4 linked regions of the Homo sapiens genome follow. The protein of the gene in region 1 purifies or fractionates together with the protein of each later gene. This does not show direct contact. Each region holds a gene or a part of one and is shown on either strand. Other genes may lie near its edges. The genes, in order: MMP10, MAN1A1, EMILIN3 and PCSK1N.

What was found.
Region 2: the proteins of MMP10 (region 1) and MAN1A1 purify together in Homo sapiens (affinity purification with mass spectrometry; 2 studies listed by BioGRID and IntAct, with this or other methods). This does not show direct contact.
Region 3: the proteins of MMP10 (region 1) and EMILIN3 purify together in Homo sapiens (affinity purification with mass spectrometry; 2 studies listed by BioGRID and IntAct, with this or other methods). This does not show direct contact.
Region 4: the proteins of MMP10 (region 1) and PCSK1N purify together in Homo sapiens (affinity purification with mass spectrometry; 2 studies listed by BioGRID and IntAct, with this or other methods). This does not show direct contact.

What each region holds. Positions count from the first base shown.
Region 1 is NC_000011.10:102,770,607-102,777,632, reverse strand, and holds part of MMP10 (stromelysin-2 preproprotein), read left to right. Parts: intron 1-856; coding exon 857-1,021; intron 1,022-1,208; coding exon 1,209-1,353; intron 1,354-2,311; coding exon 2,312-2,445; intron 2,446-4,626; coding exon 4,627-4,786; intron 4,787-5,517; coding exon 5,518-5,621; intron 5,622-6,739; coding exon 6,740-6,840; 3' UTR 6,841-7,026. UniProt on the Homo sapiens protein: Can degrade fibronectin, gelatins of type I, III, IV, and V; weakly collagens III, IV, and V. Activates procollagenase.
Region 2 is NC_000006.12:119,185,762-119,192,787, reverse strand, and holds part of MAN1A1 (mannosyl-oligosaccharide 1,2-alpha-mannosidase IA), read left to right. Parts: intron 1-2,904; coding exon 2,905-3,124; intron 3,125-4,210; coding exon 4,211-4,383; intron 4,384-7,026. UniProt on the Homo sapiens protein: Involved in the maturation of Asn-linked oligosaccharides. Progressively trim alpha-1,2-linked mannose residues from Man(9)GlcNAc(2) to produce Man(5)GlcNAc(2).
Region 3 is NC_000020.11:41,363,810-41,370,796, reverse strand, and holds the start of EMILIN3 (EMILIN-3 precursor), read left to right. Parts: upstream 1-3,978; 5' UTR 3,979-4,162; coding exon 4,163-4,329; intron 4,330-5,639; coding exon 5,640-5,762; intron 5,763-6,935; coding exon 6,936-6,987.
Region 4 is NC_000023.11:48,832,602-48,839,841, reverse strand, and holds the start of PCSK1N (proSAAS preproprotein), read left to right. Parts: upstream 1-4,231; 5' UTR 4,232-4,309; coding exon 4,310-4,423; intron 4,424-7,240. UniProt on the Homo sapiens protein: May function in the control of the neuroendocrine secretory pathway. Proposed be a specific endogenous inhibitor of PCSK1.

The sequences.
Region 1 (7,026 bases):
TTTAAACTAAAGATTGTACACATCCAATGGCACCTATTACTGGGAAGATTTTTGACAATCAAAAATTATTTGATTATGGCCAGGCACCAGTGGCTAATGCCTGTAATCCCAGCATTTTGGGAGGCCAAGTTGGGTGAATCACTTGAGACCAGGAGTTTGAGACCAGCCTAGCCAACATGGTGAAACCTTATCTCAACAAAAATACAAAAATTAGCCGGGCATGGTAGCACGTGCCTGTAATCACAGCTACTCAGGAGGCTGAGGCACGAGAATCGCTTGGACACATACTCCAGCCTGGGCGACAGAATGAGACTCTGTCTCAAAAAAAAAAATTACTTGAGTATGATGAAGAGGAGGAAGAGAAAATCAGACTAAACCCCACAAGAAATAACCACAGTCTTCTGGCTTAAAAGTTTGAACGTAAATGTTATATGATTAATTTTAACCAAGGTTGCAACTGGCAAGTGTTCCTAAATTTGAACAATGACTTTTTATTTTTAGACAACGAAGAGTTATATTTACTGACATGCTATTAGTCTTGTCCTTTCAAAAAAAAATCTTTTGAAAATAATGCTTCTCATTTGTCAATATAGGAAAAGTGTCTTAGTTTTCCTGACCAAGGAGGGATCTAGGGAGGGATACGGTGAAAAACTGTCTTATATATTGACTTAAAGTCAACCTTGAAAAACACATTAATTTCTATAAAGTATGGAATGTGCCAATCAATGAACCAATCCACAAATACTGAAAAGACATTGTGGTTTCAAGGATGGCCTGTACAGCTGGCATATGTTCTGTATGTGTATTTATGGAAGAAAGAGCTGGTGAATTCTGAACATTTATGATTTTCATACAGGCACCAATTTATTCCTCGTTGCTGCTCATGAACTTGGCCACTCCCTGGGGCTCTTTCACTCAGCCAACACTGAAGCTTTGATGTACCCACTCTACAACTCATTCACAGAGCTCGCCCAGTTCCGCCTTTCGCAAGATGATGTGAATGGCATTCAGTCTCTCTACGGTGAGTGATGCTGGAAAAATTAGGCATTGCAGATCTACAATGACAGTCCTCCAGAAAGCTTTCCAGTGCTACCTAAAGTATTTCTGATTTGGCCTGAAGCACTTTGAGAATGTTTGAAAGGCACACAAATTGACAGATGCATCACATTTTTTTTTAATGTTTGCATCCCCAAATCTGTTTCCTTTAGGACCTCCCCCTGCCTCTACTGAGGAACCCCTGGTGCCCACAAAATCTGTTCCTTCGGGATCTGAGATGCCAGCCAAGTGTGATCCTGCTTTGTCCTTCGATGCCATCAGCACTCTGAGGGGAGAATATCTGTTCTTTAAAGACAGGTCAGACCAGAAAATTATATTTTCCTATCTATTCTTTTGATGTACAGTGCTTAGAAAGAAAAACAGAAACTTGACAGAGCTTTTTTTTTAATTTTAGGTTCAGGGGTACATGTGCAGGTTTGTTATATAGATAAACTCGTGTCACAGGGGTTTGTTGTACAGATAATTTTGTCACCCCAGTACTAATCCTAGTACCCAGTAGTTACTTTTTCTGCTTGACAGAGATTTTTTAAAATATAAAATTTCCTCTACATTTTAAAATCATTCAGATCTAGTTCTTGCTGAATTTTTAACATCTTCTTAGAATTGTCCAGATCATTTTTTACAGACTTATAAGGGATGATTCTTGGTCCCTAGACTGTAAGTTTGATTAAGGCAGGGAGTTATATCTGTTTCGTTCATTTTTTTAAAATATCATATATCATGGAACTTCTTCAGAAAGCACTGGTGGATCCTTAGAAGCAGGGTGGTATCTTTCCATTTACTAATATATGCTACTATTTAAATTAATTACTTTTGGAAAAAAGTGATATGTGCTTGTGGCACAATATTTAAACACTACCAAAAGATACGGAGTTAAAAAATCTCTCTCCAGTCTTTGGCCTACCGTCCTCCAGCTCCCTTCATATGTGCAACCACTGCTACCAATTTCCTTTGACTCTTTACAAAAATGTTCTACTCATATACAAGCATCAATATACACATAATATTTTTTAAAATATTAGGACATAATATGCACACTGTTTATGGACTTTTAGAATGGAACCAAGCTAAATAATTTTACTGGAACCAGTCACAAGTCCTGCCATCGATTTCATTACCCTGGAATCACATGCAGGAGGATGGTTTAATACAGACTTCTATGAATGGGTGAATTAGCATGGATTTAAAAAAAAAGAATTTTTTTTTCACATATCTAAAAGAGAAAGACAATTGCAAGTAATTTTATGTATTACAGATATTTTTGGCGAAGATCCCACTGGAACCCTGAACCTGAATTTCATTTGATTTCTGCATTTTGGCCCTCTCTTCCATCATATTTGGATGCTGCATATGAAGTTAACAGCAGGGACACCGTTTTTATTTTTAAAGGTGAGTACTATATAAGAATTTCAACTTGCTGGAATAAATCCTATTGCAAAAATTTTATTGACATGAGTTTTATCCATTATATTAAAGTTTAGATTACTGAAAGACCTTGTGCTAACACTTAAATAAAATTTGTACAAAGAACATTATAAACTTTATTTTAGAGACCTCTTAAGAAAATAGGTGGCATTCCATATTCATAAAAAATGCAAGATAGTAAAAATGTCAATTTATCTATAGATACAAGACATTTTCATTTCAAATACCAAATGCCAAAAGATTTTTCATGGAACTTGACAAATTAGTTTTACAATTTATATGGCAGAGGAAAGGCCAAGAATAGCCAGGATGCTCCTGGTGAACCCATCTTATTAGATGAGGAGAAAAGCCCTGTGTTATAAAACTTTAATCGGTAAGATGTAGTATCAGTGCAGGGAGAGATAAATTAACTAATGGAGATATTCAGGTATAGAGGCTTCTTTATCAGACTTTTAAACTACTGTTTCAATTTGTTTTATTGGTAATATGCTATTAGAGTTTCTATTACTTCTTGAGTCAGTTTTGTTAACATGTTTTTCTAAAAATTTGCCAATTTTGTCTGTTTTCAAATCCATCAGAAAAAGTTTTTGGAAAATTATTTTGTTGTAATTTGAATTATTGCTGAAGTTTTGTTTTCTTTTTCATTCTTAATACTGAATCCTTTTGCCTTTCTCTTTTTTCTTCATCAATCTCATAATATATGTAATAATTTTACTGATCTTTTCAAAGGACTGACTTTTGGCTTTATTTACTCTCTATATTATATTTTGATTTCCCGTTTAATTAGTTTCTGTTCATATCTTTATTGTTGCCTTAATTTTTGTTTACTTTGAATTGATCCTGTTATTATTGTTATAGCTTAAGTTTGATACTTACCTTATTAACTTGTAACTTTTTTCTTTTCTAATACAAGCATTTATACCTATAAATAACCATTTCTTCTGTTTCATCCAGCAAATTTCGATATGCAGTATTTTCATTTTGTTCAATTTTAATTCTTTAATTTCTCATTTTTATTTTTTCCCTAGACTCATAGGTGATAATGGAATATTTTTAAATGTCAAGCTTTATGGAGATTTTAAAAATATTTATTTCTGGCAATCTCACTTATGTGAAGATCAAATGAATGTGAAATTGCAGTAGAAATTGTAAAGGATTACATAACTCTAACGTATTGTTATCAAGTAATGTATCTCACATTTACATATCACTTGCACTGTGTCAGACGCCATTCTCATTGGTGGAGGTCAGGACTGAAAAGGGCTCATATTCTAGAAGGGGCAGCAGAGATGAAGCCTTTGGCAGCCTACATATGACAAGTGCTGGGACTGAGAGAAGGAAGGGTGCCATGGGAGCACCTGACTCATACCCAGGACTCAGCAAAGATCCCTTAGGGGAGGTGATGTTAGGATGGGTCTTAAAGTTCTCTATTGTTGTGCAGAGATGGGCTGGGTGTACAGAAAGTAGAAAGGTCTTTAAGAAAGAAGAAATTGTTTTTACCAAGTAAGAGCATATCTGGAACTGCTCAGACAGATACAAGTCATTCGGTTCAGACGAAGCAAGAGAGATAAACAACAGATGGACATTTTAGATTAGTGAATCTGGCAGTGAGTGCGAAGAAGGAATTCAGGCTTGGGGTCTGGGAGAGTGATGTAACAAAGTAAATGCAGAGAGATTGATGGGATTTTATTGTCCTAACTCACTAGAATTTGAATGAATTCCGATAGTGTTCACAAGAAGCACAGATTGGAATTGGTGACTGTGAAATATCTCAAAGGAAGTGTCCAATAAGCAACTGATCTATTGGTATGAAACTTAAGAGAGAGAGGTCTAGGTGAGAAATTCAGGTTAAAAGTTTACCAACAATTATAAGAAATAACTAAAACTGATCTATAAATAAACTATAACATATAGATACAAATATATAAGACACAGAAAGGGCAGTGAATCAGAGTTATCTACTCATTTATTCATTCATTCATTCACTCGCTCATTCAGGGAGTATTTATTAAGGACTGGCTGTGAACTGGACATTATTAGGTTGGAATTAAAACCAAGCCTTCCTCTTTACCACAACAATGCACTATAATTATTTTTAAAATCAATGGCTTCAAGTAAAATGTCTTGGATTTATTTTTTCAATAGGAAATGAGTTCTGGGCCATCAGAGGAAATGAGGTACAAGCAGGTTATCCAAGAGGCATCCATACCCTGGGTTTTCCTCCAACCATAAGGAAAATTGATGCAGCTGTTTCTGACAAGGAAAAGAAGAAAACATACTTCTTTGCAGCGGACAAATACTGGAGGTGAGATGCAAGAGAAATGACTTTCTATGAAGCCTGATTAAGAAAATTATTTTCTTTCTTTAAGGATATTTCCCTACCCTACACCCACCCTCTAACTTTCTCTAACTTCAAAATTTATGATTATGAGGAAGACAGCTTATTGTTCTACCTTCCGGATACAAAGGCCTCTCAGAATGGTGATCACTGGGCCATATACTCAGACACTAAAAGACATCAGGAGAGGCCAGCTGAGGTCCAAAGGCATTCACCTCTTATTCCATTTCCAGTCACCATGTGGCTGCCATAGGAAGCCCAGGTGTGGCAGGCTTTGGAGACAGGATCTACAGGGTCCCAGTGTGACTGAGAACCAGAGGTTTATTTTTAGCTAAGTGATTTAATTAATTTTGCATTATGAATTCATTATGTCTACACAGTCTTTATGTATTTATAGTAGACACAGGGAAATTTGGTTTCTGTGTGTCCAGGCTTAGAAAATTTACCTCAGACATATGTATGGAACCTCTGTAAAATGGCATAATGTTCCTGTTTCTGGAAAATATTGTTTTATGTGTTAAACTTGTAAGCCCAGGAAAGTAACCTATTCTTGTAGCTCTAAAAATGTTTAACACTTTTTTACACAACTTAAAAAGTTTGTCTAGGATTCCACACTGGAAAATTAACATCACATTATACTATTGTGTGTAATGGGACTACTGCACATCATTGAACTGTATTTCTTTCATTTGGTTTAGATTTGATGAAAATAGCCAGTCCATGGAGCAAGGCTTCCCTAGACTAATAGCTGATGACTTTCCAGGAGTTGAGCCTAAGGTTGATGCTGTATTACAGGCATTTGGTAAGAAGACCCTTATTTCATTGTCATGCAGGAATCTCCAGGCATTTTTATGATTTCAAAATAAAGTGCAGAATCAAAACAGTTTTTAAATCATTCAGTCTGATATCTTTTTTACTCCAAATTCCTGAAAATCTTAACTTTCCAATTTATGCAAAGTGGGTTTAAATTTGTGTGTGTGTGTGTGTGTGTGTGTGTGTGTTTTCCTGAATAACTTCCTAGTCTCTGTTTCATATCCGCACATAAAATCAAAGGATACTTCCTCACACAGAAGCCATTATCTTTCAGGTCACTATGTTGGTATAAAAATACAATCTGTGTGAGCCAGGCTTACTGATGGCTGGTTGTCATTCTACTCTATCCCATCCTGTTGTCCCTTTTCTTCTATCCCACCCCAGGGGAGCCTTGTCTGGGCTTCTGTTGCAGTCTGCGATTGCCTGCATTAGTCATTTGTAAATAAAATACTAGTCCTCCCATATGCTCAAAATAGGTCAAATGTGATTCCTGGTAATGGGCAAATAGGAAAGCAAAACTTGTTCTTGATTACTCTGAAGGAATTTTGGAGGGAGCTGCCAGTGCTTGACAATCCAATGGTCATGAGGCTGATGATCTTGTTACTAAAATGACTTAACCATGATGGATGCAAAGCAGGAAATGGACCTCTGGCTCATTTATCATTTGTCTGATTCTCTTGGGTCTAGTTGTCTCCCAAACTGTAATTTAGAACCTAGCAGAAGAGGGGAGGTTGGAAAGAAAGTAAAACAAGGTTTTAAAATATTATAGAATTTTATCTCTTTAGAACCAGTATGACGTAATGTTTTAGAGCACTTCCTTTGGAGTCAGATGAGATGGAGTCCTCCCTCCTTCCTTCCTTACAGATGCTACCTTGTTAAAATTACAAAACCGTCTTAATTTTTAGTTTTGTTCTCATTAATAACACATCACAGTTTTTTGTAAGGGTAATTGAGATAAAGCATGTAAAGCACTTAGCTCAGTGCTTGGCATAGAGTAATCACTTAATAAATGCCCTCCATTATTAACTTGTACTTAATCTAAGTTATATGTGTTGCAAAATGACATATTTGAAGATGTCTCATCATTTTCCTTATCTATATTTACAGGATTTTTCTACTTCTTCAGTGGATCATCACAGTTTGAGTTTGACCCCAATGCCAGGATGGTGACACACATATTAAAGAGTAACAGCTGGTTACATTGCTAGGCGAGATAGGGGGAAGACAGATATGGGTGTTTTTAATAAATCTAATAATTATTCATCTAATGTATTATGAGCCAAAATGGTTAATTTTTCCTGCATGTTCTGTGACTGAAGAAGATGAGCCTTGCAGATATCTGCATGTGTCATGAAGAATGTTTCTGGAATTCTTCACTTGCTTTTGAATTGCAC
Region 2 (7,026 bases), on another chromosome or scaffold:
GGAATCAGGTGCTTTTGCGATTAAGTATTTTATGTGGTAATACATATATTCTTTTAATATTATTATCAAGGCTTCTCAAGTAGTGTTGTAAAATAGTGGCTCAGTCCTCAGAAAAATTTTATTTTTCTTGACAGCTTAGAAATTTTTTAATAAAGTGTTAATTCATAGGAAAAAAATGGAAATTTGTAATCCCAAAGATGTAGCCATTATAAAATTGGTCTTTCTAACAAGAGGTCTGGGTTATTTTGACATAGGCGTACTTTTTTATTTAAATATAAATGCAGCTTGCTTTGTTCTGGTTAACTACACTGAGTATGACATTGGTTTCCTTTACAAGTCTTCACTACTTCACATGTAGGAACCAGAAGCGCCTTAGTGAGAACGTTGGCCTACATTTGGCACAGCCTTTATAAAGGCACATGATTAACATCAAAAGCAAACTAGGATATGATCCACATGGCCTCTTTTAGGTTTATTTTTCCTCATTGCTGTGAGGTTTCAGATTTTAACCTGGGGAGTTCTCCATATTTTATAGTTTCCATTCTGTCATCCTCTAATTACCATACTGGCAGACATTTTAATTATTCTAATCTTAAATTGGCCGTCTAAGATCTTGATGTTCAAAAAAAGACAGCTTTAAAATATTATTTGAAATATTTTCTTCCTAATTCCTAAAACCATACCCACACAACTTTTAGTATATTGTATTCAGACAAATCATTGACAGGAAAATCCATTAAGAACAAATGAAGTCAAAGTGTTTCCTGCTTCTCTTAGTAGTAAAAGCTAATTTTCAATCCACTGTATATTTTCAACTTAGAAAGCAAAGCTAGAACAACTAAATTTCTGTTTTGAGAAGTAGCATTGTCTTATACAGCAAAGTTTATTTCTGCTAAGTTGTACTTTAGAAGATTATTGTAACCAAGGGGAGGATGCTGTACACTATTGTTCTGGACAATTGATTACTGAAGATATGGCTACTCTGTTGTAGCTTCAAGTAGATTTTGGGAAGCATTTAATCCCAGAGTGATATGTTTTATTTGATTATTTTAATAACAAAATATTTTGAGCTTTCAACTGGCTATCATGGCCCTATCTGGAGACTACACTAGGAACTCACAATGGCAAATGATACCTGGGCAGAAGACATATCAGACACTTACGATTCTGAAGGCTTCATCAAACCAGTTTTTTAAATCAATTATACAAGGATTAAATCACAAAATATATAGTACTCTTTTTTCTAATCAATTATCTGTATCCTTGACACAGTTTTTTCAGATCTACTAAAGACTATCCTTCTTTGTATTTATTTATATTTCCCATGGCCACACAAAATTATTGCTTTGAAGGTCTTGGAATTTCATTGTAGTTTTTATTAGGAGGTAGCAACTTGGTCCGAATCATGCCAGAAATACTTTATTTAGGATCCATAACAGGGTAATAATGTTTCTCTAATTCATCCTCAAAAGCTACTACTCTTGCCATGTAGAAAGAATAATTTCTTAGGTGATGAACAAGTATCTGCTTGAAGGACTTTATTGCAATTTGTGTTATGAGAAGTATAAATAGCTAAGATGTTCAGTCGCATAAAATAAGAATGAAATATTAATGTAATAACTAAACCATCAATAACATTAGCTTAACCACGGTTAATGAGCACAGTAATATGTTCATTTATTTCTTACCATCTTGGTTTCATTCGTTTATTTCTAATAAAGGTAGGAAAGGTTTTAGCTTCCTGTGTGTTCATTTTCATTCATTCTTCTCTATCACAAGTTTTTTTCTGTGTCTATTATTCCCAAATGTGCTTCCTAACAAATCCCTCTCTCTTGATAGCAGTGTACAGGTATAGACACAGTCATGTCCTTTTTCCTTCCATGAAGTAATTGTGGGGCAGTGGGGAGAACATTTTCTGTTAGAGTAATTGGAGATTAGCAATGCCAAACACACTTTATTTTTGCTTTTTAAAATATAAGGCATATTTTACTTACCTGTCTAGTTTAAGAGAATATCAACAGACCTGGGATAGAAATAAAAGATGTTTTATAAATCATTTTTGTAAACATTATCATTTCTCCCAAATTTAAAGATTTTTCTGATTTTTAAAATATATACATTTATTCATTATATAATAGTGTGCTTTTTAATAGAAGTATTAGAGAGGAACTTGATTCAAGCGTCACCACTTTGGAGATGTAAATGATAATTATAAATGACTCTTATCAAGTGCCACTTGCATTAGTGACTGCTTTATAAACAAAATGTGGCAGAGTCGTATCAGGAGATCCTGTTGTTCCCATTTATGGATTAGGATGCTGAGATTTAGAGATATAGTAAGCAAATTGTTCACTCCCACAAATTAGAGATAGTGTCAGAGCTGGAATTTGAAGCCAAGTCTTCTGGCCCCAGAACACCTCCTCTTTGCCACTCTATTTTGTTATCCCTCCAAGCCTACAGAAGTGAAAGGAAGAGTTCTGCCACCATCCTGGATCTCATGCACAAATATGCTGTGTTCTTCATCCACCTTAGGGCCTGGGCTGTGTTATTTCACCACTTATGGAAATGAAAATGTACCAAACCAACTATTACTGCTGCACAGTGGCCTGTCTTTGGGAAGGAGAAAGTTTTTTGAATATGAGGAATACAATGTTTGGTCACAGAACCAAGCAAAACCAAATGTGCTGGCGCAGCAGTGTTAATTCTGACTAATCAAACAAATAAGGCATAAACTAGAGGAGGAATACAGAAAGCAATAGCATGTAATTTCAGGTTGAATGGATTTTTAACACCAAACTCTGATTGTCAGGTGTATTCTATTCTTTTTTTTTTAATGTTGGGCATATTTTTAGTATAAATTTGAGAAGAGATTACAAAATGTTAAAAAATAAGTGTTTTTCACAGGCTATCGAGACTCATTTGATCCGCAAGTCTAGCAGCGGACTAACTTATATCGCAGAGTGGAAAGGGGGCCTCCTGGAGCACAAGATGGGCCACCTGACCTGCTTCGCGGGGGGCATGTTCGCACTCGGGGCTGATGCAGCTCCCGAAGGCATGGCCCAACACTACCTTGAACTCGGGGCTGAAATTGCCCGTACTTGTCATGAATCATATAATCGAACATGTGAGTACATGTTATTCTTCATTTATGGTCTATTCCCACATGCTTTGATTTAATGCAGTTTTGTCATTGCTGCCCTCAAAAGACTATCCGCTCTGCCTATGAAGCTTGATGATCGTGATTAATGTCTCAAAGGAATGTATATTTTATTTTAAAAGGCAATGCTTTTCTTCCTAAAAATATCTACCTTTAGTTTACCAAGAAACAAAAATCCAGGCCATAAAGAGTTAAAGCCAGCCTAATTTACTGACTTCTGCTTTTGCCAATAACATTGGGCAAGGGTCTCTATCTCCCTGCAAAGAGAAACTTAGCATTTTATTAACCATTATTAATCTTCTCCACATCCCCCATGAAACAGATCATGAATCCCACTCCCTTCTTATAAAATAGGAATTTGAAACACAAAGTGTAAATAACTGGCCTTCTGTTACGAAATTACTTAGGATTGTCAACCACTAAGTTTCTGGCTAACTCAAATGGTATTTCATGGTGCCTTGTATCTGCCTGGTGGGTGCTCAGTAAATGGGGGTTAAATGAAAAAAATAAATTGTTAATATTTTCTAAAATGGACTCTTTTCAATGACTAAATTGTTTAAGTATATGAATATTATATATTACATGATGTTTATAACTCGTTTTTAAAATGACTACTTTGACATTTCTCTTCAGTGTTGTTAAAGTACAGTCAGACCTTCGTATCCCTGGGTTCCACAACTGCAGATCAGAAATGTTCCCAAAAAATGGATGGTTCTGTCTGTAGTGAACATTTATAGAGTTTTTGTTCTTATCTTTATTCCCTAAACAATACAGTATAACACCTAGTTACATAACATTTACACTGTATTAAGTAGTATAAGTAAACAAGGTGATTTAAAGTATATGGGAGGATGTACCCAGGTTGTATGCGAATACTTTGCCATTTTATATAAGGGACTCAAGGATCCATGGATTTTGTTATCCTCGGAGGGTCCTGGAACCAGTCCCTCATAGATACTGAGGGATGACTGTACTTTCTAGTTTCATTTAAGTTATTGACTGTAAGCACTGTCCAGGAAAATAACCCTTATTCATTCATTCCATGTCCTTTAGTTATGAAACTGGGACCAGAAGCTTTCAGATTTGATGGTGGTGTTGAAGCCATCGCTACAAGACAAAATGAAAAATACTACATCTTACGGCCAGAAGTTATGGAGACTTACATGTATATGTGGAGACTGACTCATGATCCAAAGTACAGGAAATGGGCCTGGGAAGCCGTAGAGGTGATGTTTTAATTTGCATGTTTCTTATAGATAAATTTCATAGTAAAAAATGTTCAGTGATACCCATAAATCAGGCTTATCAACTTTTCTATAATTTTTAATGCTTCGACCAGGATTTTTTCCACCCAGGACTGTGTATTTTCATTGAAGTCATTTTATATCCCTGGCTTCAGCTTTGCTTTGTATAACATTGATATAGATATATCTACTGATAGACTTAGATATTGAAGGAGATAACTAGAAAGGCATAGTCTAAAATTAAGTTCCCATTAATACAAAAATGATGATCTCTTAATTCCACCTAAGGGTTGTTGGCAGCTTGGGGTATTCACCTCTATTTCAATAAACCACTTCATGTTTTTTTCTGTCTTTGGGCTTTAAAATGCTAGTATATGCTTTTACTTAGAGTAAATAGCTACTTAGATCTAACTTTTAGAAAGCACTTATAGAAGAATTACTTTGTATAAGGATATTCCTTTACCAGTCTCAGGTTTCTTGGAATATCTATAAGCTTTCCATCTGCCCAGTGTGTTGTTTTGTCTGTCACCTCTTGGGTCTCTTCCTGCTGAGGATAGTATACCTCCTTCCTAAACCAATCTAGTGAATGCTTTGTGTGCCGAATGCCTGAGGAGGCAACCTGCAGGATATGCATCTAACAATGTCTGTCTAATTGTAAGAGTTATTATTCCTCAAGGAGTGGGAGGGAATTCAGGGGATAAGAACAAGCAAATTCTTTAATTACACTCTCATTCTCTAGCACTCTTTGTTAGAAAGTTAGCTATCTTTAAAAACTGTCCATGAGGAATGACTTCTCTCAGGAAATCTAAAATGAATATTGCCTTTGGTAAAATTTAACTAATATCTTAGGAAGCCATCGGTGAATCTTGCTTATTATCCTCTTCATTTAATATGTGTCTTATCATTAATCATCAGTCATTTTAAATAACAGCAATTCTCTAGGCCTCTTTGAGGGGGCAGTTTTATTACATTTAATCAGTAGTCATTGTAATTTCTTTACATTTCTGTTTTTTTCCTCTGGAGAAAATGTTAAAGTTGAAGCTTTTCTAAACTTTGGTGATAGGGAATTGTTTTGGTCTTCAATTGGCCAGCAAATGAATTGAATATTTTAAGTTGAAAATATCAGGAATGGTGTGTTCCATCAAATCTAAAACACCATAATTAGTAAGAAGCATCATTATTTTATATACCACTAAGAAAAATAACACTACCAATTAAGTTATGACATCCATTTTATAGATGTTAGAATGTACAAAATGTATGGCCGAGAAGGTATCAAAAATGGGAAGTAAGCAAATTCGTATTGCCAGGTAGACAGGATGCTTTGGTTTGCTGTGTTCTTCAGGGGGTTGCTTGTTTATGAGATCATAAGGTTGGTTTATGTGTTATGATTTTTATTTCTTGTCAACTCTTTAACATAATATATGACCTGAAATCGTTTCCCTGTGTCACAACACTGAGGTCTCAATTTTGGGGATGCCCCCAGTAACCTCTGCTAGAACCTGAGCTATAGTGGTGAGCCAGGAGTGCTGTAGGGTCTTGCATTTTTTAAACCAGAAAAACTGGGACTTCGAAGGCATGGCCGCACGTTTTTCCCCTGGTGTTATGCCCACCCCCGTGGCCTCCTGTGTTTCAGCAGCAGCCCCGCATATGCTTGCAGCTCCCACCTCCAGCACTTGGCTGTTCTGATGCATACTTGAGACCACAGCTGGAAACCATGTCAGGAAAAGAAGGTGGAAGAGCTTTTCCCTAGCCAGCTGGCTGTGGTCTGGGAAGTGCTGGGGAGTTAATGGCTGTCAACCAAGGAGGTTTTGGAGTTGGTGGATAACTGTCCCAGTCTTCTTTCCTTCAAGAATCATTCTGGAATGCATGCTACATGGTTCTTCAGAGGGTTTCTAGCAGGAGTGAGCCTCGTTGCACACAGTTGAACAATATGATTCATTGGCTCTTCTGTCCCTGTTTTGCTTTTCCCACTTGCCCACTTCCTGATGTCACCTCCCTGATAGACTTCCTGCATCCTGCGTCCAACCCTTGTCTCATGCTTTATTTTTAAGGGAACGCAAACTGAAACATAGGGGGTCTTAAAAATCACCTCATCCAGCTTTCCGCTTAAAGACAAGACTCCCCTCCATATCTTTGCAAGATAGCTGTTCCTCATCAACCCAAGGACTTTCCAGCAAAGGGGAATGTATCACCTAATAAAGTAACTCATTCCAATTGGTAATATTGAAGGTGTTAGAAAGTTATTTATTTTGAAGCCACAATTTACAGTGTTCTGTGCTCTGGGGGTACCAGAGGGAAAAAATCTCCCTTCTGCATTTCAGCTCCTCAATTATCCGAAGACAGCAGGTTCTGCCATCTCTTCCTTTCCTCATCCATCATTTCCCTTGATTTTCTTCTCCTGACCTGGTTTCCAGCTGTGGTCTTTTAGGGCTGAATAGTGTGAACCTCTCTTCTCTCTTCGCAGTGTGATTTTTTCACAGCTTATGGTCCAACTTGTTCTTTTAGTAGATTTATATTTAAAAAAAAAAAAAAAAAAAAACTGGGAGGCCAAAGTGGGTGGATCATGATCATGGTCAGGAGATCGAGACCATCCTGGCTAACACGGTGAAACCCCGTCTCTAC
Region 3 (6,987 bases), on another chromosome or scaffold:
AGGAGAATTGCTTGAACCTGGGAGGCAGAGGTTGCAGTGAGCCGAGATCACGCCACTGCACTCCAGCCTGGGCAACAGAGTGAGACTCCGTAAAAAAAAAAAAAGAAAAGAAAAAAAAGAAAAGAACAGAAAAGAAAGGCAGGATGCATAGGGCTCACCCCTGCAGTCCCAATACTTTGGGAGGCCAAAGCAGGAGGATCACTTGAGGCCAGGAGTCTGAGACTAGCCTAGGCAGCATAGTGAGACCCCATCTGTACGAAAGGAAAAACTCATGCACATGCATGATAGTGGTATGGGGGATGGGTTGGGTGTGGTTGTGCATGTCCCTGTGAACTGAAACTGCACTCCCACTCCCGTGTATGGCCCGTTTCCATCCAGGTGTAGAAACTCCAGTCTGAGTCAGAGGAACATGACTGCCTCCTTTCCTCCTCTGCTTCTGGCCTCCCTAGGTTTCCTGTCTGGCAGATGCAAAGTGGCCTCATCGTCTATGGGGGGACCCCCGCTCTGGCCTGATCCAGCCAAGACCCTGAGCATCTCCCTGTACTGAGGTCCTCCACCCCCACTAGAATGGGGCCCAGATCCTGGATCCCAAAACTGTTGCAGTGAAAGAGGGAGCATGGTGTTTGATGTCAGCCACCTGGGAAAGGGGGAAGTGGGGTCCAGCTATCCTTTTAGCCCCTATGACGTGGATATTTCCAAGCTCAAACAGGGTCCAGCCTCTTCCTTGTGAGTTTTGGGCCCCACATCTGGGGCTGGGGAAGGGAGTGAGAGGAAGGGGTGGGACCACTTGGAAAAAGATCACAGCCTCTGGGGTGGGGGAGTTCCTCCCAGAGCCAGGCTGGGCAATGCTGCCAGGCAGTCAGCACCCAGCCTAGGATGAGGAGCTGGCTCAGATGTTTCTCACTTCCTAAAAAGCGCAAAGTCAGTGGTTACAAGATCAAGAGCTTGTTGGGGATATGGTGTATCTTGCCCTCAGCAAAATGGTTCATAACATCTCTCTTAGAGGTTGGAGCATATAATAGCACATTCGGTGCTTTTATAGGGAGAGTGAAAGGCTGTCTTAGGGACCATGTGGTTGCTGTAAGACTATACTTTCAGGGATCATTTCTACAGTTCATGACTAGAGAAGTTTCTCTCTGTAGAGCACATTTGGTTGCTGGGATCAGAAACCCATTCAAGCTAGCTCCAATGGTGGACTACTGGAAGCAGATAGGGAAGTCACAGCTTGTCCCCAGATGGTTACTCACCACATAGCCCCTGACTCTGCCCCTCTCTCCCCTGACCACACTCTTTCTCCCTTTCCCATGATTCCCCCAGAGCTCTCGTGGTCTCTCCTATCATTACCAGCCAAGTGCCCCTGTAGTGGATTGAATTGTGCCCCTCCCAAAATTCATGAACATTTGGAACCTCAGAATGTGACCTTATTTGGAAATAGGGTCTTTGTAGACGTAATCATTTGAGATGAGGTTATGTTGGGCTGTACATCCAATGACTGGTGTCCTTATAAGAAGAGGAGGCTGGGCTGGGTGCAGTGGCTCACGCCTAGAATCCTAGCAATTTGGGAGACTGAGGTGAGAGCATCACTTGAGCTCAGGAGTTTGTGACCAGCTTGGGCAACAAAGTGAGAGCCCATCTCTACAGAAATTTTAAAAATGAGCTGTGCATGGTGGTGCACAACTGTGGTCCCAGCTACAGAGGAGGTGGGGGCAGGAGGATCACTTGAGCTCAGGAGGTCGACGCTGCATTCCAGCCTGGGTGATGGAGCTAGACCTTGTCTCTATTTATTTATTTATTTATGGAGATGGAGTTTCGCTCTTGTCACCCAGGCTGGAGTGCAATGGCATGATCTCGGCTCATTGCAACCTCCACCTCCAGGGTTCAAGTGATTCTCTTGCCTCAGCCTCCCAGGTAGCTGGGATTACAGGCGCCCGCCACCACGCCCGGCTAATTTTTTTATTTTTAGTAGAGATGGGGTTTCACCATATTGGCCAGGCTGGTCTCAAACTCCTGACCTCAGGTGATCCCCCCACCTCGGCCTCCCAAAGTGCTGGGATTACAGGCATGAGCCATCGCGCCCAGCCCTGTCTCAAATTTAAAAACACAACCAGAAAGGCAGGGCGCGGTGGCTCACGCCTGTAATCCTAGCACTTTGGGAGGCCGAGGCGGACGGATCACGAGATCAGGAGATCGAGACCATCCTGGCTAACACGGTGAAACCACGTCTCTACTAAAAAAAAAAAAAAAATACAAAAAAATTAGCTGGGCATTATGGCGGGCGCCTGTAGTCCCAGCCACTCGGGAGGCTGAGGCAGGAGAATGGCGTGAACCCGGGAGGCAGAGCTTGCAGTGAGCCGAGATCGCGCCACTGCACTCCAGCCTGGGCGACAGAGCGAGACTCTGGCTCAAAAAACAAAAACAGAAAGAAGAGGAAAGGACACAGATCACAGTCACAGAGAAAAAAAGGTCACCTGAAGAGGGATATGCGGAGGGAAAGTAGAGGCTGGAGTGATGCTGCTACAAAGAATCCTTGACCAAAGAACGCCAGAGATTGCCAGGAACCACCAGTGGCTGGAAGAGGCAAGGAAGGCTTCTCCCCAGAGCCACTGGAGGGGGCATTGCCCTGCTGGCCCATGGATTTTGGAGTTAGCCTCCAGAAATGTGCAAGAATACATTTCTGTGTGTTAAGCCACTGAGTCTGTGGCTGTTACCACAGCCCTGAGAAACTCACACAACCTACACCTGGAAGCTGGATTCCTTCAGCTTCTGTGTTCTGATTCCAAAGCCTGGGGGAAAGCAGGATGGGCCTAGCTGGGGTCAGATGTCCGCCCCACAGAACCCAAAAGCCACTAAAGCTAAGGGCAGGAAATAGATGTGGGTTTCGGAGCTGCCCCTTCCAGTATCCTTGATAACCATCACCCTATCCAAAAGGCATTAATTCATATCTCAAGGTCAATTTGGAGGGAGGTCTCTCCAAGCAAGCCCCAGAGTTCTGTACACCTATCAGCTCCTGGGGCAAAGACACAGACGGCTGTAGCCACCGGTGTGGATGAGACAAGGCCAGGAAAGTACCGCTCTGATGACAGAATCAGAAGGACTCTGTGCAGGTTAGAGAGTTAGCAAGGTGATACTGAATGAGGACGACGATAAAACCCAACTCTTGGGTTCCAAGAGTCAACTTCACAAGCAAAATGTGGACGACGCCTGGCTTCACCGCGGCAGTGCCTTGTGAGAAAGACCTGAGGATTTTCTCTGACCAGCCGGCTTAGAGCTTCAGTTGCACGAAAAGCACAGCACTTTTGGCTGGGCTGGGGCGGTGATAGGCCTTTCGGGCTCGGTGCAACCCATACCTAAGACAGAGAGGCAACACAGGCGCCTCCAGAGAACCAGAGGTGCAACCGGGCCACCAGGCTACGTGGCAGAGGTTGCGGGGTAAGGGGGAGGTGGGATGCCTGGGGAGAGGTCAGCGGAGTTATCAAACTAAGGTTCCCGGGCAATGATGGGGCCAGGAGGCAGAGCGAGCAAACGGGGATGATCTGGGGTCTATTCCAAAGAGGTGGCGGGGGAGGTGGTGCTGCTGTGCCCCCAGTCACGGCCATCTCGGCTCCAGAGCCCTGGAGAGCAGTTCCCGGGTTCACACGGACTCTGAAGACAAGCGTATCCTGAGGGTGGACGACTCCTGGAAAGTCCACGCCCAGGCTGGCCTCAGGGGTCCGCTTCTCTGCGTCTCGCCCCGTGCCCGCAGGCGACAGAGTGGCTGGTGTGCTCGGGGGGCCTCCCAGGGCGCGGCGGCCTGCGCCCCTGCCACCTGGGGCTGCTCCCTTTGGAACCTCCTGTTCGCAGGCGGCTCCTCGGCCGTCCGCTCGGAGCTGGGGCGAGGGGCTGGCGGCGGCGAGCGGCGCGGCCCCAAGTTTATGCTAATCCGCAAAGAGCCCGCCTCCCGCCTCCCCTCCGCGGCCCCAGCCGCTAGCAGCGCCGGCCACTCCGCGGGACGCAGCCGCCGCGAAGCGCCAGGCGGCCGGGCCAGCGAGCTCGGGGGCCGAAGGGGACCCCGGGACCCTCGGGGCGGGACCCGGGCCGACCAGCGGCGGGGGCGGCGCGGCGCTGCAGGCGGACACCCGGCGGGGGGCACCGCGCGGGGCCGGGCAGAGGCGCGGGGGCCGCTATGGGCCGCCGCCGCCTGCTCGTCTGGCTGTGCGCCGTCGCGGCGCTGCTCTCGGGGGCGCAGGCCAGGGGCACCCCGCTCCTGGCGCGGCCTGCGCCGCCCGGTGCCTCCCGCTACAGTCTCTACACGACGGGATGGCGCCCGCGGCTGCGCCCGGGGCCGCACAAGTAAGCGCGGGCGGGCGGCGGGCGGGAAGAGGGAGGGATGGGCCCGCGCGCGTCGCCGCTCCCACCTGCCCGCACCCGCGGGGGGCGTCGAGGCCCCGGGCACCCCGAGGCCGCTGCACAGAGGGGGCGGCGCCCGGGGCCGAGCCCCTGCCCAGGCGAGCGCCCTACGCTCCGGGAGGTTGCGGGGCTGGCGAGGAAAAAGGAACCGAGGGGGCCTGGCGCGGCGGCTTGGGATCCTGGCAGTGCCAGCGGAAACCTTTCCAGCGAAGTAACATTTTCCAGCTGCGCTGTGTGCAGACTCCGGGCGAGCGGACCAGGTGGAGGGAGAGGAGGAAAGGCGGTCCGCGCGCTGAGCACGCGGGGCTCCCCCGCCCCGGGCCTCCCTTCTCTCCCCTGGCCCGGCCAGGTAGGAGATAGAGCTGCGCATCCGGGCGGCCGCTGCCCTCTCGCAGTCAGCCTGGCCCCAGCAACCCCATGGGAGCCCCAGCGTGGCCGGGCTGCAGAGCCAGAGCGGGCTCCTGGCTCCGGGCCTGTGCTGTGGCACAGCCGTCCACAGCGGTCGGCTTATGCCAGGCAGCCACCTCCTCAGCCCTTGTGGCTCATCAAGGAGCCTGCTTTCCCCGCCTCAGCTTCTGGTGTTTCGTGGGCAGTGGCTTGCGAACTGGCCTCAGTTAAGTGGGCTGGAGGCTCTGCCTGGGGTGCTGGCTGAACTTGAATTCTAGCTGAATTTGAGAGCTGTTGTAGGAGGAAGAGTACCGACACTCAGTGGGCCTGGGTACATCACAGCGAGCCTCCTGGAGGAGGTGGTACAAGAACTGCTCTGAGAGTAAGGGAACAGGACCAAAGGCAGGGGCTGCAAAACTACGAGGAGAGGTGGATTTCCCCGGGAGCCAGGCAGGGAGGAAGGACAAGACATGGTGCTCTCAAAGGAGTCACTGAGTGGGGACTCGGAAGCCTTAAATGCCAAGATAAGGAGTTTGGAATCAGCGAAGGATGGGGGGGTGTGGCAGGGCACTTGAGGGAGAATCCGGGCTGGCCTCTTCCCCACGCAGGGAGGGGCAGCCACATCAGGCTCCTGGTTCCAAATAGTGCTTAGCCCAGGGGCCACCCATCACGGAGGCTGGAATCAGAGACCAGCAGCGGGGCTGGACCCCAGACCAAGGGCGTTGGCTCCCAGGGACACAGAGAACAGACAGAAGAGACATGGGAGTTTGGAGTCCTGCTGAGGCCCACAGATGGAGGTGGGAGGGTAGGCGCCTCTGTGGGCCTCGCTCAGCCAGATATTCCAGGGGTGCCATTTTCTCCTGTAGGGCCCTCTGTGCCTATGTGGTGCACAGGAATGTGACCTGCATCCTACAGGAGGGAGCGGAGAGCTACGTAAAGGCTGAATACCGGCAGTGTAGATGGGGGCCCAAGTGCCCCGGGACAGTCACGTAAGTGCACTCCTCACCTACACACTTGGAATCCCCTGGCACAAGCGCCAGTCCTGCCTTCAGCTGAGAGCAGCTGCCAACTCCACAAGGGGCTTCTTGGACTCCAGAGAGCCCACCTGAGCCCCCATACAGGCCAGAGTAGAAGGCGGCCCCAGAAAAGAGGGTGCCAAGGAGGACCCCAGGGATTTGGGCTTGCAGCAGAGCATCACCCGCACAGACAGGGGCAGGCTTGGGTTGGAGCCCAGGAACCACAGAGGGACAAGGGGAAGGTTCTGGGGGCAGAGGCAGCACAAGGCTAGGAGGAAGTGACAGAGGCAGAAGGTGAGGGGAGAGGAGGGAGCAGAGGGCCCCTTAGGCAACGGGTGATGCCACAGGGGGGCCTGGCAGGCCCAGGGAGGACTGTGGTGACCACAAGGAGGCAGGCCATGGGGCAGGGAGAGGAAGCCGGAGCAGCAGGGCTGCACGCACATGGGATGCACAGCTCTGTACCTGGAGAGGTTCACGTGTGTGTGTGGAAACAAACCTGTTGTCTCCGGTGTGTCAGTGGGTGAACAGGTACGTGGCTGAACAGTGAGGGCATGGACCCTCGCGAGCCTGCCTGTACCCTGGACCTTCCCTTCCCTGCTCACAATCAGAGGTACCCGTCCATCTGCCTCTCTGACCAGAGCCGAGGTCCCGGAGCAGGCTAGAGAGGAGTGGAAAGAACTAAGGGGAGCAGGTAGGAGCCAAGAGTGGCCCCCAGGGCAGTGAGGGGGCTGCCAGCGCCAGCTCCAGGGCAGTGCCCCTCCCTGCCCACAGGGAGGGCTGGGGCTGTGTCTGATTCTCCCAGGTGCTACTGCAGCCTGAGTGGAATTTCTCATGGCAGCCTGAGCTAGAGGGGGTCCAAGTGGTCTTGGGAGGGATGGGGCAAAATTCCTGCTTCTCTCCAAGCTACCAGGATGGGTGGGACTTCTACCTGCATCCTTCCCTAACATGACTGTGAGCTTCAGGAAGGCCTGCCCTTACCCACCCCTGTCACCTTAAGCACAGAAAAAGTACAGCCCTGGGGGTGCTATGGAGGTGGGGAGATACCCAGCCTTATGCAAGTGTCTGAGGGCGGCCCTGAGTGCCAGCTAGGGGGAGAAGCACAGCCCTCAGGTGCAGGATCCCACTCTCTTGCCCTCCCTGGCCCAGGTACCGCACAGTACTCAGACCCAAATACAAGGTTGGCTACAAGACAGTGACA
Region 4 (7,240 bases), on another chromosome or scaffold:
CCTCATCTCTACTAAAAGTACCAAAATTAGCTGGGCGTGGTGGCACGTGCCTGTAGTCCCAGCTACTGGGGAGGCTGGGGCAGGAGACTTTCTTGAACCCAGGAGGCGTAGGTTGCATTGAGCCCAGATCGCGCCACTGCACTCCAGCCCGGGTGACGGAGTGAGACCGTCTCAAAAAAAAAAAAAGGTAAAGAAGGACTCTTTTAAAAAATGGTTTAAGTGGCCGGGCGCGGTGGCTCACGCTTATGATCCCAGCACTTTGGGAGGCTGAGGCGGGCGGATCGCTTGAGGTCAGGAGTTGGAGACCAGCCTGGCCAACATAGCAAAACCCCATCTCTACTAAAAATACAGACATTAGCTGGTCATGGTGGCACACGCCTGTAATCCCAGCTACTCGGGAGGCTGAGGCAGGAGAATCGCTTGAACCCGGGAGGCAGAGTTTGCATTGAGCCGAGATCATGCCACTGCACTCCATACTGGGCAACAGAGTGAAACTCTGTCTCAAACAACAACAACAACAACAACAAAAAAAGATTTAAGAATATGTCGAAAAGCACAGAGAGATAGATTATTTTTGATGACAAAAGAAACCTCCACTGAACTAGGAAAACAATAATTTAGTTATTTCATAGTAAAAGGACACAAATTCTAATTTTACATCTTTTGTACATTATTCATGTAATAATTTCCAGTAGAGAATTTATTAATATAAGTATATGTATGTAGTTAGTTATACATGGAAATATAAATCTACAGATACAGGCCTGGCATGGTGACTCACACCTGTAATCCCAGCATTTTGGGAGGCTGAGGCAGGCAGATCACTTGAGGTCAGGAGTTTCAGACCAGCCTGGGCAACATGGCAAAAACCCCATCTCTACAAAAAATACAAAAATTAGCCAGATGTGGTGGCGTGCACCTGTAGTCCCAGCTGCTCGGGAGGCTGAGGCATGAAAATCACTTGAACACAAGGGGAGTAGGTTGCAGTGAGCTGAGATGGCACCACAGCACTCCAGCCTTGGTGACAAAGCGAGACTCTGTCTCGAAGTCAGTCAATCTACACATAGTCAATAAATTAAAAAATTTTCCACAGTTTCAAAATACAATTAACTTAGTATGATAAATAAAATTATGTATGTATTAATTATAATATTACCATTAATAAGCTGTAATAACTTTTTATTTTTATTTCTTAATTTTTGTAGTCTTTTGTCCTCGCCCCTATAACTTTTCAATAAACAAATAAAACTCATATCCATTTTCATGTATACATATTTGTATTTATCTGTAATTCTTTTTACCTAGGATAATCAACCATGCATATCAAATGTTTTTAATCTTTAATTCCTTTTTTTGAGACAGAGTCTTGCTCTGTCGCCCGGCTGGAGTGCAGTGGCGCGATCTCGGCTAACTACAACCTCCGCCTCCCGGGCTCAAGCGATTCTCCTGCTTCAGCCTCCCGAGTAGCTGGGATTACAGGCGCCTGCTGCCATGCCAGCTAATTTTTGTATTTTTAGTAGAGACGAGGTTTCACCATGTTGGCCAGGATAGTCTGGATCTCTTGACCTCGTGATCCACCTGCCTCAGCCTCCCAAAGTGGTGGGATTACAGGCGTGAGCCACCATGCCCGGCCCCTTAATCTTTAATTTTTATAAGTACATGGTGTGTATATTTATGGGATACATGAGATTTTTTTTTTTTGAGACGGAGTCTCTCCCTGTTGCTCAGGAGTGCAGTGGTGCGATCTCTGCTCACTGCAACCCATACCTCCCAGGTTCCAGCGATTCTCCTGAGTAGCTGAGATTACAGGCATGCACCACCACGCCCTGCTAATTTTTATATTTTTAGTAGAGATGGAGTTTCGCCATGTTGGCTAGGCTGGTCTCGAACTTCTGGCCTCAAGTAATCCGCCTGCCTCGGCCTCCCAAAGTGCTGGGATTACAGCACCACACCCGGCCTCACTTCATTCCTTTTTATGGCTGAATAATATTCAATGATATGGAGAAACCTCATTTTACTTATCTGTTCATCTATTGATGAACATTTGGGTTGTTTCCACTTTTTGCTATTATAAATAATGCTGCTTTGAACATTTGTGTACAAATTTTTGCATGGACTCTTATATACATTTAAAAATATGGCCAGGTGTGGTGGCTCATGCCTGTAATCCCAGCACTTTGGGAGGCCAAGGTGGGTGGATCACTTGAACCCAGGAGTTCAAGAGCAGCCTGGGCAACATGGTGAAACCCATCTCTACAGAAAAATGCAAAAATTAGCTGGGCATGGTGGGGAACACCTGTAGTCCCAGCAAGTCGGAAGGCTGAGGTGGGAGGATTGCTTGAGCCTGGGAAGTGGAGGTTGCAGTGAGCCGTGATTTCACCACTGCATTCCAGCCTGGGTGACAGAGTGAGACCCTGTCTCAAAACACAAATAAACAAACCAAAACAAATTTTATTACACATTTTATTACAGAAGGAGTAGGATTAAAAATAAAACAAAATAAAAAGTACATTTAATTGATTTTCTTTAAAATATTCAGCTGGGGTTTAAATTGAAATTACATAGAAATTATATATTAGTTTGGATAGACTTGACATCTTTATAAAATGAAATTGCCTCATCCAGGAACATGTATTGTGTCTTCATTTATTCAGATGATCTTTTTTTGTTTTTGAGACGGAGTCTTGCTCTGTCGCCCAGGCTGGAATGCAGTGGCACCATCTCAGCTCACTGCAACCTCTGCCTCTCAGGTTCAAGCAGTTCTCCTCCTCCTCAGCCTCCTGAGTAGCTGAGATTACAGGCGCGTGTCACCATGCCTGGCTAATTTTTGTATTTTCAGTAGAGATGGGGTTTCACCATGTTGGCCAGGCTGGTCTCAAACTCCTGACCTCAGGTGATACACCCACTTCGGCCTCCCAAAGTGCTGGGATTACGAGCATGAGCCACCGCGCCTGGCCTATTGTAATTTTTTTTTTTCAGACAACAGAAAAGTATAAAGGAGAAAGTAACAAACCATTAGTTACCTCCCCAGAGATAACCATTGATGACATTTCCTCCCCAACATTTTTCCCCCTATGGATACACATACATTTTTTCAAGATCTTGTTTCCTTTGATATGTCATTTTAGTGGCTTGAACTTATTTCTGGAACAATATATGGGTAAAGTCTATGCATATATGTATCTATGTATATATCTATCTATGGAAAACAAGTAGATATAGACAGTAAAATAAAGACAGAGACAAGACAGCGGTTGGAGAGATGAAAGGAGAGAAAGTCATAGACAAGGAGAGACATATGGGGAGAGGAAGACACAGAGAGAGCTGTGGGCACATAAGGGCAGAAAGATAAACACAGAGAGCCATGGAGAGATGAAAGTATTGGGCTGGGGCCAGGCATGGTGGCTCAACGCCTGTAATCCCAGCACTTTGGGAGGCCGAGGAGGGCCGATTGCTTGAGCTCAGAAGTTGGAGACCAACCTGGCAACATGACGAAACCCCATCTCTACAAAAATACAAAAATTAGCCAGGCGTGGTGGTGGGCACCTGTAGTCCCAGCTACTTGGCAGGCTGAGGCATGAGAATTGGTTGAACCCTGGAGGTGGAGATTGCAGTGAGCTGAGATCCGGCCACTGTCCTCCAGCCTGGAGGACACAGCGAGACACTGTCAGAAAAAAAAAAACACAAAGAGACAAGGAGAGGATGGAAAGGAGCATTTATGGAGCTCCTACTGAATGTCATTCTAAACCTCCAAGGTCACTTTGAGGGAGGCTGTCAGTAGTAACCCCTTTACGCCGCTGAGAGCCTGAGCCTTAGAATGGCCAACTGAGCTGTCCATGGTCACATCACCTAGATTGAACCCATCTCCCTGGCGCGGGCCGGGCCCACTGCGGGTGATCCATTAACTATTTATCTAATGAACAAACTAAAGTCCATCTCCTCCCCCAGGAAGAGAGATGAGGACCAGACCCCCATTCCACTCCACTGAGTCAATTTTTCTTGCCTGTTTTCCTGTCTACTAAGGTAACAGTAAGGTCGGTTGCCCCAGCAACTGCCCTCCGACTGCCATGGCAACCGCCAGCTCTCCACCTTGCCCTTTGGGCATCTCCATGGCGACGGGAGGTCTGGTGGGGCTGCCAGCTCCCCAGGCTGCGCCTGCGTCGGTCGGGTGGGTGGGGTGGGGGCGGGGGGGGGGGGGCCTGGTTCCGGGCGTGCGCAGCCGCAGAGCGCCGCAGCCTCGCCAGCTCGCCCCGGCACTGCGCACTTGCCAGCCAGTCCGCCCGTCCGGAGCCCGGCTCGCTGGGGCAGCATGGCGGGGTCGCCGCTGCTCTGGGGGCCGCGGGCCGGGGGCGTCGGCCTTTTGGTGCTGCTGCTGCTCGGCCTGTTTCGGCCGCCCCCCGCGCTCTGCGCGCGGCCGGTAAAGGTGCGACCCCAGTCCGGCGAGGGGTGGGGGTTGGGGGAGGATGCCACCGGCGAGGGTTGGGGTTGGGGCTGCGCCGCCTCACCCCCGCCCGAGCCGGCTCCCGGGACGTGCGGAGAGATCGACGAGGGTGGCCCGGGCTCCGGCCGCCGGTCCGCGCCCAGGCCACGCCGGCACACCTGAGACCTGACTTGGTCTCTGCCTGTGCGGGTGGCGTTGTCCGGGGCGCCGCCGGTAACCGTGCCCTGCCCACCTCTCCGTGCCCGGTGCCTGTGACGCTGTCCACGGCACTAAGGCGCTTTAAGAAAGGGCGCGCGCGCATCAGTGTGTGTGCGTGTGATGTGAGGAGAGCGGTGTGGAGGTGTCGTGTCCTTGAAAGTGTGTGTTCTTTGGTTTGAGCGCTTCCAAGTGTCCTAGAAAGGTGCCGTGGTGCGTCTGGGTGTGTAGTGTGTGTGATACCGGGATACTTCTGTGCGCGATTCTTTTGTGCGTCCGATTGTTTTCTCAGTGACACCGTGTGGATATTTGTGAATCCTTATTATGTGTGTTGGCTTGGCCTATGGGCGTGTCTCTCTCTCTCTCTCTCTGTCTCTCTCTCTCTGTGTGTGTGTGTGTGTGTGTGTGTGTGTGTGTGTGTGTGTGATTTCGTTTGTGTTTGAGAGGGAATGGTCTTCGCATCTCCGTGTGCACATTCCATAGTGGTTCTGTTGGACCAAGTGCCTGGGATTTCGTTTGCGTGTTCCTGAGACTGTTTCTCTCCGTTTCTTTGTGGAGCTGTGTCATCCTGAGGAGAGGAGCCATGATGTCTCTCTGCTGCATTGTGTCTTTAAGGATGGTGCATGTCCTTGCACCTGGGTGGCTTGGCGATTGTAACTGCAGGAGCAGCTGCGGATGTGAACGTGTGCAGGTCCTTGCATGTGGCTGTGGCAGTGTTGGGCTGTATATGTGACATCTCCAGGCCTGTCAGTCCTCATGAGTGTGTGTGAGGCTGTGATTGCTGGTGAGTGTGATACCCCGGGGTGACTGAGGAGTGGTGGGCGCCAGCAAGGGCACTTGGAGAGGCATCCTCCTCTAGCTCTTCAATACTGTCTGCATCAAAGATGGGAATTAAAAAAAACTGTTACCTTATATCCGTGTAACAATGTGTTTAATATATATGTACAATGTAAAGAATGATGACAAAATAACTCTCTCGTGTAGCAGTCACTCAGCTTAATAAATAGAGCCTGACCAAGAGTTAGAAGCCCCTGCGTGCCCCTCGCCATGGCAGCCCCTGTCCCCACACAGTCCTTATTCTGTATTTTCTGTCCATTGATCCCTTACTTTTGTTTGTAGCTTATCACATATGTGTAGCTCTCAAAAAAAATCCATTGTTTAGTTTTTCCTGCTTTTGAACATCATTGAAACGGAATCATACTGGGTGACTGGTTCCTCGTAGTCACTAGGGGTCACTAGGAAGTCCTCAGGGTGTCTAGTAGTCTCAGGCAGTCTGCAGTGAAATTCTGGAACTTGACGTTTTTTTTTCCCTTGGCTCTATTCTGGTCACGAGATTCATCCAAGTTGATGCATGTGGCTGTAATTCATTTATTTTTATTGCTGCATAATATTACATCCTATGAGGACATCATGATTTATATATGTATTCTCAATTTGTCAGTGGACATTGGACTGTTTCCAGGCTTTTCTTTCTCCCCCGCCCTTTTATGCTATTACGAACAGTGCTGCTGTCATCTTTCACGAACTTGTGACCAGTAGCGTATGTGCCAAAGCTGCTCTGGGGAGTGACATCCCAGGAGTGGGTCATAGGATATGTGCATCTTTTTAGATATTGTCAAACCGCTCTGCAAAATTACTTTGCCAGTTTAATTCTCACCAGCATAGTATGAGAGTTCCCATTTTTCTGCATTCATATCAACACTTCATATTATCAGACTTTTTGATTTGGGTCAATCTTTTGGTTATATTATGCATAGTATCTCCCTGGCATTTTAATTTGCTTTCCCCTGATTACTAATGAGGTTTTTAATTTTATTTTATGTTTGTTAGAGACAGGGTCTTCCTCTGTCATGCACGCTGGAGTGCAGTGGTGCGATCTGGGCTCACTGCAACCTTGAGCTTCTGGACTCAGGTGATCCTCCCACCTCATCTTCCCAAGTAGCTGGGACTATGGGCTTGTGCCCCGCTCATTTTTTTTGGTTTTATTTTTTGTAGAGACAGGGTCTCGCCATTTTGACCAGGCTGGTCTCAAACTCCTGGCCTCAAGCGATCTTCCTGCCTTGGCCTCCCAAAGTGCTGGGATTACAGGCATGAACCACTACACGTGGCCCAATTTTTCATATGTTTAGTAATCATTTTTGTGAAATAGGCGATCATGTATTTTTTCTATTTCTGTATGAGTTTGTTTTTCTCTTACTACTTTTTAGGAATTCTCTGTATCTTCTGTGTACTACTCTTTCATTGACTATTTGTGTTGCAGGCATCACTCCTTTTAAACATATTTATATGTGGCCTGTATGTTTCTTTTCCAAACCTTCACAGTCATTTTTATGATCTTTTATTCCTTGCTCAGATTATTGGTACCCTCTTTTATTTCTTTAAACTTGTGGAAATTGTTTGAAAACTGCTTGAACTGAAAATTTGTCATTGGGTAATTTATTCTACAGATGAACTTGTACACATGCCAAATGATATATGAACAAGTTTATTCATATAGTTCCTATTGTCCACAATATTAAATATGGAAAAATCTATAACTGTCATATCTACCATCACTACTCTTATGAAGAAACTCGGTCTCCAGGAGTGGGGGTGGGGAGGGAG